Linked DNA regions of Homo sapiens: region 1 is linked to region 2. A link means that fine-mapping ties the variant in region 2 to the expression of a gene that starts in the linked region. Tissue or cell type: testis. Region 2 holds a variant in brackets; the other region holds the start of a gene. All regions are shown on one strand. Distances are between the middles of the regions.

Evidence for each region. PIP is the estimated chance that this variant, and not a neighbour inherited with it, causes the effect.
Region 1: VTI1B starts here. The variant in region 2 is fine-mapped to the expression of VTI1B in testis (GTEx, PIP above 0.99).

The regions. Positions count from the first base shown.
Region 1 is chr14:67,672,217-67,677,367 of GRCh38, forward strand. It overlaps VTI1B (vesicle transport through interaction with t-SNAREs 1B), which reads right to left and starts at 2,416. Exons shown (of 6, transcript NM_006370.3): 1 at 2,159-2,416. The coding sequence starts at 2,273. RDH11 (retinol dehydrogenase 11) reads right to left here. Exons shown (of 7, transcript NM_016026.4): 7 at 4,584-5,151. It also overlaps a transcript of GPHN not described here. RefSeq lists silencers at 2,091-2,200, 2,301-2,740.
Region 2 is chr14:68,038,138-68,043,288 of GRCh38, forward strand. The region is part of intron 7 of RAD51B (RAD51 paralog B); the gene reads left to right. Among named protein-coding and RNA genes, the nearest start is that of RAD51B, 220 kb to the left of the region's middle. The variant C/T (reference allele first, on the strand shown) is at 2,161.

The sequences.
Region 1 (5,151 bases), 370 kb before region 2:
CAAGTGATCCTCCCACCTCAGCCTCCCCAGGAGCTGGGACTACAGGCATGCACCACCATGCCTGGCTAATTTTTTTATTTTTTGTAGAGATGAGGTTTCACCATGTTGCCCAGGCTGGTCTCAAAATCGTTCAACACAGCAATACTCCTGCCTCAGCTTCCCCAAGTGCTGGGATTACAGGTGTGAGCCACCATGCCTGGCCTGCAGTCTACTTTTTTTTCTTTTCTTTTCTTTTTTTTTTTTTTTTGATACAGAGTCTTGATCTGTTGCCCAGGCTGGAGTTCAGTGGCATGATCTCGGCTCACTGCAACCTCCGCCTCCTGGGTTCAAGCAATTCTGCCTCAGCCTCCTGAGTAGCTGGGACTACAGGCAACTGACACCATGCCCGGCTAATTTTTGTATTTTTAGTAGAGATGGGGTTTCACCATATTGGCCAGGCTGGTCTTGAACTCCTGACCTCAAGTGATCCGCCCGCCTCGGCTTCCCCAAGTGCTGGAATTACAGGTGTGAGCCACCGTACCCTGCCTGCAGTCTACTTTTCAATCACATAAATCAGATCCCACAATGCTTCTGCACAGTATCTTTTAACTGCATCCCATCATATTTAGAAAAAGGCACAAGTCTTTCACCATGGTCCACAAGGCCCTACATGATCTGGCCCTGCTTATCGCTCTCCTTTGCTCACTCCATCCCAAACACATGGAACTTCCTGCTCTTCGCTGAACACACCAAGCTCATTTCTGCTTAAAGGCATTTGCAGTGCTATTCCCTCCTTCTGACACTCACTTCTCCCTGATTTCTGGTTTACTCCCTCACTTCATTTAAGTCTCTGTTCAAACGCCATCTCCTCAGAGAGGACTTTCACAACCGCCCTATTTAAAACTGAAGTCCCAAAGAAGGCGGATCACTTGAGGTCAGGAGTTAGAGATCAGCCTGGCCAACATGGCAAAACCCTGTCTCTACTAAAAATACAAAAATAATTAGCTAGGGGTGGTGGCGCAACTGTAATCCCTATTACTCCAGAGGCTGAGGCAGGAGAATTGCTTCAATCTGGGAAGTGGAGGTTGCAGTGAGCCGAGATCGTGCCACTGCACTCCAGCCTGGGTGACAGAGTGAGACCCTGTCTCAAAAAAAAAAATGATAAATAATAAAATAAAACTGAAGTCCCATCCCCTATTCTTTTACTCTGATTTACTTTCCTGTATTCTTTAACACTGCCTCTTAATAGTTATATATTGTTTATCACCTACCCACTAGAATGGGGATGTTCGTATCTTTTTCACTGTAATTTGCAATATTCACCAGCACCTAGAACGGTGCCTCACAATTCACCAGCACCTAGCACACAGCAGCCTCACAATAAATATATATTAAATACATGAATTTCATTCTCACCAGTCATTCAATTCCTATGACCTTGAGTAATTCGTTGAGCAAACACCCAAGCTCTGACTCTTAAATAAAAGCAATAAAACAAAGTTTTGTCCTTGCCATCAAATTCTATATATCCGGAGGCCAAGAACTATAGCAGCTTTTCCTATGGATTTAGGGCCGGAAAACTCTAGCTCCTCCAGACAGAACTTGTAGCAACCTGAATCATGAAATTAAGGGGTAGTAAACAGTCTCAGCTGTAAAAACGTTCAAAACAAGACCACATCTAAATGCCACAATCAGGTTTTAAAGGCCAGCTCTCTACCCTCCAATAACTGGTATTTACCAACACCCCCAAATTATGACTCCTTTGGGTTTTTAACCCTTTTTCTGTGCTACGGATCCTCTGTCAGTCTGGTGAAAACTAGACCTGTCTTGAGACTAGTGCTTTTAAATGCATAAAACAAACAAAAACAGCTATGAAAGAAACCCACTCTACATTACAGGACCGCAGATGCAAAAGCCCCTCTGCTCTATTTGCCACAGTGAAAAAAGATGAGAAAATGTGGAAGGCCATAGAAGGATCCCAGGGAACTGAATCCCGAGGTCCAATTTACTCTCAGTGGCAGCAGGGAGACCTGGGGCTGGGACAAGCCAGCCCTAGGGGGCGTGTCTGAGGACGCGGAGGGAGGAGACGCGGGCCCGGGTCTGGGAGGAAGGTGGGAGAATCTTCCTTCCAAAGCGCGCAGGGCTGCGCTCCCCACGGCGTGGCCCACCCCCGCCTCACCGGTCCCCGCCGTCCCCAGCAGCCGCTCGGGCACCCCTTGTAGGTCTTCATGGAGGCCGCGGAAGATCTCGTGCAGCTTCTCGAAATGCTCCGAGGAGGCGGCGGAGGAGGCCATGGCGCAGGCCGCGCTGGAGCAGCGGCCACCGAGATTCGGGGCCCTGGGCCCTTTCCTAGCCCGGCGGTCAGCCGCCCAGCCCAGTGGCCATAACGGCGACCGCCGCACCACCGCCGCCCAGGACGAGGCTCTTCCGGAGCCGCGGCAGGGTCCTCTCGAGCCGGAACGCCCACCTTCTCCAGCCAGTGATTGCTGGAGCGCCGGCGCGAAAGCCTGACGAGAAGTCGGGAGACTGCGCGGCCTAGGCGACTCCTGAGGGAGCGGTGCCGCGCCGGGGCGATCGGCAGTCGCGGAACCCGAGAAGTGCCGGGTCCGGGTTGGGGAAAGGCCGCAGCGAAAGGGGCCTAGGGGACCTGCGGGACTGGCAGCGCGGCCGCCTTCCTCCCGGGCCCCGCCGGCCGGCGAGGGGCGGGCGCTGCAGTGCACGCCGGGGGATGTAGTTTGGCTCGGACGAGAGCGTCTCGTCCCGGGGTCGCGCGTTGCTCCGGGTGCCAGGTTCAGCCCGCGCGGCGACAGCGGGCTTCGGCCCGATTTGATGTATGTTTGCGTCTAGACGTCGTCCTCACTGTCATCGCGCTTTGCTTTGCCACCCTGACCCGAATTCCTCGTTTCGCGTCTTGACTGTTAGCTTTCGGCCCTGGAAAGATAGCCGGGCCAGGGGCTCTGCCTGCCGTCGGGAGGTGGAGCACTTTTCTTGGAAGGCCCAGCGGCTCCCCAAGCTTTCAGAAGTGGAACCCGGCCGGGCGAGTGGCTCGCGCCTGTAATCCCAGTACTTTGGGAGGCCGAGGTGGGAGGATTGCTTGAACCCAGTAGTTCGAGACCAGCCTGGGCACAATAGCGAGAGCTCTACCAGAAACCCAAAATAAGAACCGGGCATGGTGGCGCGCACTTTTGGCCCCAGCTACCCCCGGAGGCTGAGGTCCCACCACTGCACTCCAGCTTTGGGAGACCTTGCTCCCAAGTGGAGCGAGATCTTGTCTCCAAAAAAACAAAAAACCCAAAAACCAAAAATTCAAAAGTGGAACCCAGTTAGGATGACCTCGAAATACTCTAGCTGCTAGGCCCGAGTAATTCTCCTCGTGGAGACTAATTCTCCTCCTAGGCTGCCTCGTGCACTTGTTGACAACAGGTGTTTGTCAAGCGTAGGCATTGCGAGGGATCTGGGCATGTTGGTGAATAAAACATTTAATCTCTGCTCCAGGGGAATTTATAATCTGGTGTGGAAGGTGGGCCTGGCTTCATTAGGTCTCATCTGCCACTAAGTGTCACGTGTTAAAAATTACAAGGTCCCTTCTTGCACTCCATGGGTATAAATTCCTGTCTTCACGTCGGGCATGGTGGCTCACGCGTCATCCCAGCACTTTGGGAGGCCGAGGCGGGCGGATCACTTCAGGTCAAGAGTTCAAGACCAGCCTGGCCAACATGGTGAAACCCCCGTCTCTGCTAAAAACACAAAAATTAGCCAAGCGTGGTGGTGGGCGCCTGTAACCCCAGCTACTCGGGAGGCTGAGGCAGGAGAATCGCCTGAACCCGGGAGGCAGTGGTTGCAGTGAGCTGAGATCGTGCCACCACACTCCAGCCTGGGTGACAGAGAAGACCCTATCTCAAAAAATTAAAATAAATTATTATTTTCACCGATTTCACGGTTTGCTCAAGGTGTCTGTTCTCAAATGTTTGCTTGGGAGTTCAATTTTAAACTGCCTACAAATATTAAAAGATGTATGACTGCTCAGGAGAAAATGCTTTGCTAATTTGTATCTCCTGGGCCCTCATTTTTATTAGATCAAGTTCATTGGCTGTTGATTCAACACACTTTGGTTAAGCTCTTAATATGCACTGAGCATAGACATGACCAAGTCTGAGGATAGTCAGTATACTGTGTAAGTCCCACAGCACAATGCTGGGACTTGTCACAGTACAGAAATAAGGGGCAGGTGCAAAAAAAGGATCAATAGCCTGGGGCCGGGTGCTGCGGCTCACACCTGTACCCCAGCACTTTGGGAGGCCAAGGTGGGAGGATCGCTTGAGCCCAGAGTTTGAGGCCAGCCTGGGCAACAAAGCAAGACGCTGTCTCTAATTAAAAAGAAAGGAAAAAAAAATGGCCCGGGATGATCAAGAAATGTGGAAAAAGTGTCTGTGAAGAGTGTCAAAAAAGGTTAAGTAGGAAATGGTGAATGAACAATTAGATTATCACACAACCTAAATTAATAGCATGTGGATTGAGATTACACTGTAGCTAGACTCTGGAACAAATTATTCTTTAGAATGAGAAATCATTGCACAACCATAATAATGAACAGTGTTTTCTTCTTTTGACTGTAATCAAACTTTTAATTCTTAGTTTTTATTCTGGTAAATGAAAACAAAAAATAATCAAAAAGAATTTTTATTTGTCATTGACAGTTCAATATAAATTAAGTAAAACATTAATTCATTTATTCTGCACTATTATCAGAATTTTTCTAATTTTTCCGTAAAATGACCATTTCTAAACATATAGCTTAATGGTCAAAACAAGTGCAATAAAAGATTAATTTACAAGTATCAGAAGTGAAGACTGTGGTCCTATAACTCTTTCCCCCACCAAAGTTAAAATATAATTGTCATTCCAGGAAATCAAAATCTTTTAGAATAGCACACTCCAAACAAGTGATGGGAACACTACTAATTCCTTAGACTTCCTTTGGCAGCATTACTTTTGATAAGAAGTCTCCAAATAAAATACAAAATTTTGGCACAGACATTTTAATCTTGTCAAGACAATGTAAGGAAATGCCCCAAAATATTATTAAATTGACCATAATTACCAATATCAGTCCCTAAGATAATTTTTCTGAATGAAGAATTGTTTTTTTTGTTTGTTTGTTTTTAGGATTTT
Region 2 (5,151 bases):
GAGTGGTTTACTTCAGTTAGAGGGATTAGTGAATTAGCTTTGGATTTGCTTATAATTTCCTCTTTTATCTTTTACAAATTAAAAAGTTGGTATCGGCATGTAATGATAGCATCTAAAACATTTATGTTGTGGTGGTTGTATCATAGAAAACATTCTTTAGGATTCAATTATAAGCAGCCTCCTTCCATTAGCATGTCAAGTTTTTCTGAGCAGTTTTATTTGTGAAAAATCAGTACAGATATTTTTATTCATAGCTTGATATCCTTTTTTTTTTTCTTACTCAAATGAATATCTGTTTCCTACCTTTCTCCCTCAAGATGCAGTGGTGCTTTTATTATTTGATTTTGTAAAGCCTGAAGGGCAGAAATATTTCTTAAGTTTTCCATTGTTAACTACAAACTTGGCTATATAAAATATACAAATCATAATATCTGTATGGTTATTTTTATTGTCATTTCTTTAACACACAAAATTTATCACATTTATGCAAGAATTTTTTAACTTAGAAAACTCAAAATTGATATGTAAATTGGGTGGTAGCAACAATGTGTGGGATGTGGTACGTGGCCAATGATGTGTTGGAGGCAGCCCCCACCAGCTCCCAAGATCTAGTGATTAAATTTTCAGAAATTTTGTGAGCCAGTTATCAGTAAAAATTAAACTATATAAACTTACAATTAAATAAATTATTTAAAAACAAAGATAATACTCAAAACTCAGTAATTATGTTTTACTACATTTTATTATCTATGCTCTTGAGGTTATTTGTGTCTCTTGTATCTGTATTGGAAATACTATATAATGGTGTATACTATTGTATATCTCTTCACAACTTCATGTTCATTAACATCATGTTGATAGCTTCAAATTAGCCATGGTAGAAGTATTAACACCATGAAAATCAGCAAACACAACCAATCAGGGGCTGATTTATTGTTTTGCTGATTGTCTAGACTTAAGAAAGTGATGGAAAAAATGTTAATAACACATATTAAAAAGTGTGTTATATCTGGCCGGGTGCGGTGGCTCATGCTGTAATCCCAGCACTTTGGGAGGCTGAGGCAGGCAGATCACAAGGTCAGGAGATCGAGAACCATCCTGGCCAACATGGTGAAACCCCATCTGTACTAAAAATAAAAAATTTGCTGGGTGTGGTGGCGCATGCCTGTAATCCCAGCTACTCAGGAGGCTGAGGCAGGAGAATCGCTTGAACCTGAGAGGCGAAGGTTGCTGTGAGCCATTATGGCGCCACTGCACTCCAGCCTGGTGACAGAGCGAGACTTCATTCCAAAAAAAAAAAAAAAAAAAAAGTGTGTTATATATCTATAACCATTATACTATGAATAGCACCAAAAACTTGAGAAAATATTCTTTCAGGACAGTATTTGAAAACTATTATCTAATTCATTGGAGAAGTGGTTCACGTCACAGACAAGTGAATGACTGAAGTTTGGGCATATGCCTGTGTTTACCTTTTATTTATTAACTAAACAAACCCATCAGCCTTCTACAGCAAAATTGTAAGAATGAGATGTTGCTTCAAGTACATCAGACATTAGATGCTACATACATCAGGAAGCCTTTTATAGTTCTCTTTTGAAAACTGTACTACTCATAATATGCTGTTTCCTACTCACCTATGACCCTAGACTTCCTGTTTGCTCTAATGGTTGCTGTTAAAGGTATGACAAATTCAGCTGTAAAGTGTTTAGTTATCCACATCCATCTCTTTGACCACAAATTACCTAAGAATGGTGTTACACTACTTTTGTGGGAAAAGAGAAACATCATAATACTGGATACATAAAATCATAGCTTTTCCTTTCCTTGGGGGAATAATTCTGTTATCTACCCACTGTTGGGAGGTAGTTTAGATTGGTTAATGTAAGTATCAAGGGGGAAAATGGCTGTATTCAACAGAATTTGTTTCCCTTAATCTTATGGATAGCTTCACAATTCATGATAGCATAGTTATGCAACATATATGAATAAGGATGAAGATGAGTATCATTTGATTAAAGTATAGCTTCTAAGACTTAAATGACCAGAAAGAATTGAACTGCGTTTAAACTCTACCACACACCTGCTCCTTATAGTAGGATAATCTGGTCAAGCCCTTGACTTCAAGGAGCTTGCTAACCCTGGTATTAATTGATGTTT[C/T]CCAAACTTTAGTCAACTGAGTATCATCCTCACCATATTTGTTCTATCTCTGTACCGCTTGTACTTTTATTTACTTTGTAATTTTTTAAATTAACTTTTTCTTTTAAACTTAGCTTTATCCTAAGTGATAATACTCATGAAATCTTGGGTTTAAGGTAATAGTTATGTTTTTTCTAGTATCTATTAAAATATTGCCTAACAATTACAATTTTAGAAAGACTTTTCTTTTTACCACCAATGGTATGTCTATTTTGCTTTGGGAACTATTGTGCTAGTGATGATAATAGCTAGGCATTAAGTTAAATTGTCTTGTTTGTTCCTCACATCAATGTGATAAGCGTTGCTCTCTCTATTCAGTAAATGAAGACACCAAAAAATCAGAGAAGTTCAACAACTTGTCCAGGTCATGAGGCAAGCCAGAACTTACCTGGGTAAGGTCCATATGAGCCCTTGGTCCTCACAGCATTCTTAGAGAATCACCCGGGAGCTTTTTGAAAATGCAAAATCTCTGGCCTCACTCCAGACCTCCTGAATCAGAATCTGCATTTGAACAAGATCCTCCAGGTGATTCTCATGCACATTAAAGTTTGAGAAGCACTGAGCTTAACATTTGGGTATTCTGCCTCCCGTAGGAGAAGATGGGTGACTGGGTCATTAGTTTGGTTGTTCTGTGATCTGGTTTGGCTCTGTGTGCCCACCTAAATCTCATGTTGAACTATAATTCCCAGTGTTGTGGGAGGGACCTGGTGGGAAGTGATTGGATCATGGGGGTGAATTTCCCTTTTGCTGTTCTTGTGATAGTGAGTGAGTTCTCATGAGATCTGGTTATTTAAAAGTGTATAGCCCTTTCCGCCTTTGCTCTCTCTCCTGTTCTGCCATGTGAAGATGTGCAGGCATCCCCTTCGCCTCCTGCCACAGTTGTAAGTTTCCTGAGGCTTCCTCAGCCATGCTTCCTTAACAGCCTGTGGAACCGTGAGCCAACTAAACCTCTTTCTTTATAAATTACCCAGTCTCAGGTAGTTCTTTATAGCAGTGTGAGAATGCACTAATACAGTCTCCTTGTCTCTCTGTAGTGTTATTTTCTTCATGCCATGCTATTCTGAGCTGCAACTATTTTTGAGCCATGTGATATTGATGCTAAGGTAGAAGATAATATTCTCAATCCTTTTGATTATTTTTTCTCTCCTAAAGTCATAATTTGTCCACTTTCCTTCCTTCCTTAATTGGAGTACCAGGACTAGCCTGAGGGTCAACATTTATACTCTCTTTTTTTTTTTTAATCCTTGTTTTCTTCCCCAGCAGCCACAGGTCAAGTTCTTGCCCCTTCTAATGGTCTGGTCATTTCTTTTCCTGTCTGCCTGAAACTGGCAGACCCTGAGAACTGTCTACAGGCCTATAGCTAATTCTCAGTTTTTCCTGGATAGTTTTAATAGTATGGATGTCATCCTGACTCTTAGCTTCTTTTCCTTCTCCCACCAGTTCTCTGCCATTCAGCTATTTTACCGCTGCTTTTCTTTTTACTAAGATGTGCCTATCTCTGCATCCATGAGGCCTCTGTTTCCATTCTACCTTGCAGCCATCTGCTTCTCACTTTTGCTGTTGTTGCTCGTAATTGTAAGTTTAATATAAGCAGCAGCCTCAGGAGACCCCATGAAAGCAATCTTCTGGAAACAGTCAAAGTGCTGGGAATTTGATGGTTGGATCTGGGAATATCAATAATGTCTACAACTGATGAATGTAGCTGGCTATAGATTCTGAAGTACTCCAGTGCGTCATCAGCATTTCATGAGTATACTGTCTGTGTGATTTTTTCACAGAGTTTCCCTTTGAATTTTATGTCTGCAGAGTTTCTAAACACTGCACCTGGCTCATACAGTTACAAGCCTTCTTTCTCAGTATTTATATAGTTGTTTATTCAGTCTCCAAGATGATTAGTTATTTGAGATGAGTAGAAGTTGCATCTATTCATGTAATCAGAGCTTGTTTTCTTGCTCACTGGTGGCCAGATACAGGTCATAATAGTATTTTATTTTCTTAACTTTGAATAGCGTTAAAGGGGAGTGGACTCATTTGAATTACAGGAGGTACTGAAAGAAAACTATATTATTCATTACATTTTGTAAAGCAAGGAACAAAGAGGAATAGTTGTTTCCTACCATGGTAATTTCAGACTCTGAAAGATCTGTTTATAAGCCAAATGTAGACATACCTATCCCTAACCCAGATTTTTTTATGGTCTTCAATTTTGTAATTATTTAGAATTGAAGGGTTTTTTTTCCTTTCTGCCACATATTTTTGTACACACCCTTTCTCCCTCCCCTTTCCCATGCTTTTGTTTCCTTGAGAAAAGGAGCGTCCCTCTTAGAGCATAGAATAAACATTCTTTGTGAAGTGTGACTTATTTATGCTTCAGGGGTTGTCAGTGTATACACAATAGAGAAGGTGATGGAGGCTCCGAGGCATGCCAAGTCAGCACTTTGTGCATGTTGAGGCCAAAGAGCATGTTAAGCAGGCTTAAAAAATTTTAACAAGTCAGAACATTTTACAATTTCCATATTTATCAAACATGTCAGGGGATGGGATCACAAAGCCTTCCAGGGATTAACTGCCTCTCTGACTTGAACTGTTTTATTAAGATGGAAGAAGCCAAGTTCTCAACACCCTGTGATTTGCTCTAATAACCACAAGAATCAGAATGTAGGTGATCCTTGCTGAATGAAAGCAATCCTAAGGCTAAATGCTCTTTGAATGGGGAAAAAAAAAAACTCTCTCAACAGATGAACTATGTGTGAAACTTTCTAACAGAGCTTAGGAGTTTGAAGTTTATTTACCTAGAGCTTCAGTTTTATTAATTCTCTGGTTGGTGGTTCTTGACCTTTGACACCCAAGGACTTAGACTGTGAAGCCTAAATAGAAGGCATTCAGAAACCTGAAGACATTCTCAAAGAGGGGTGGCCATTGGCTTTTTTGGGGTTGGCAAAACATCCTAGA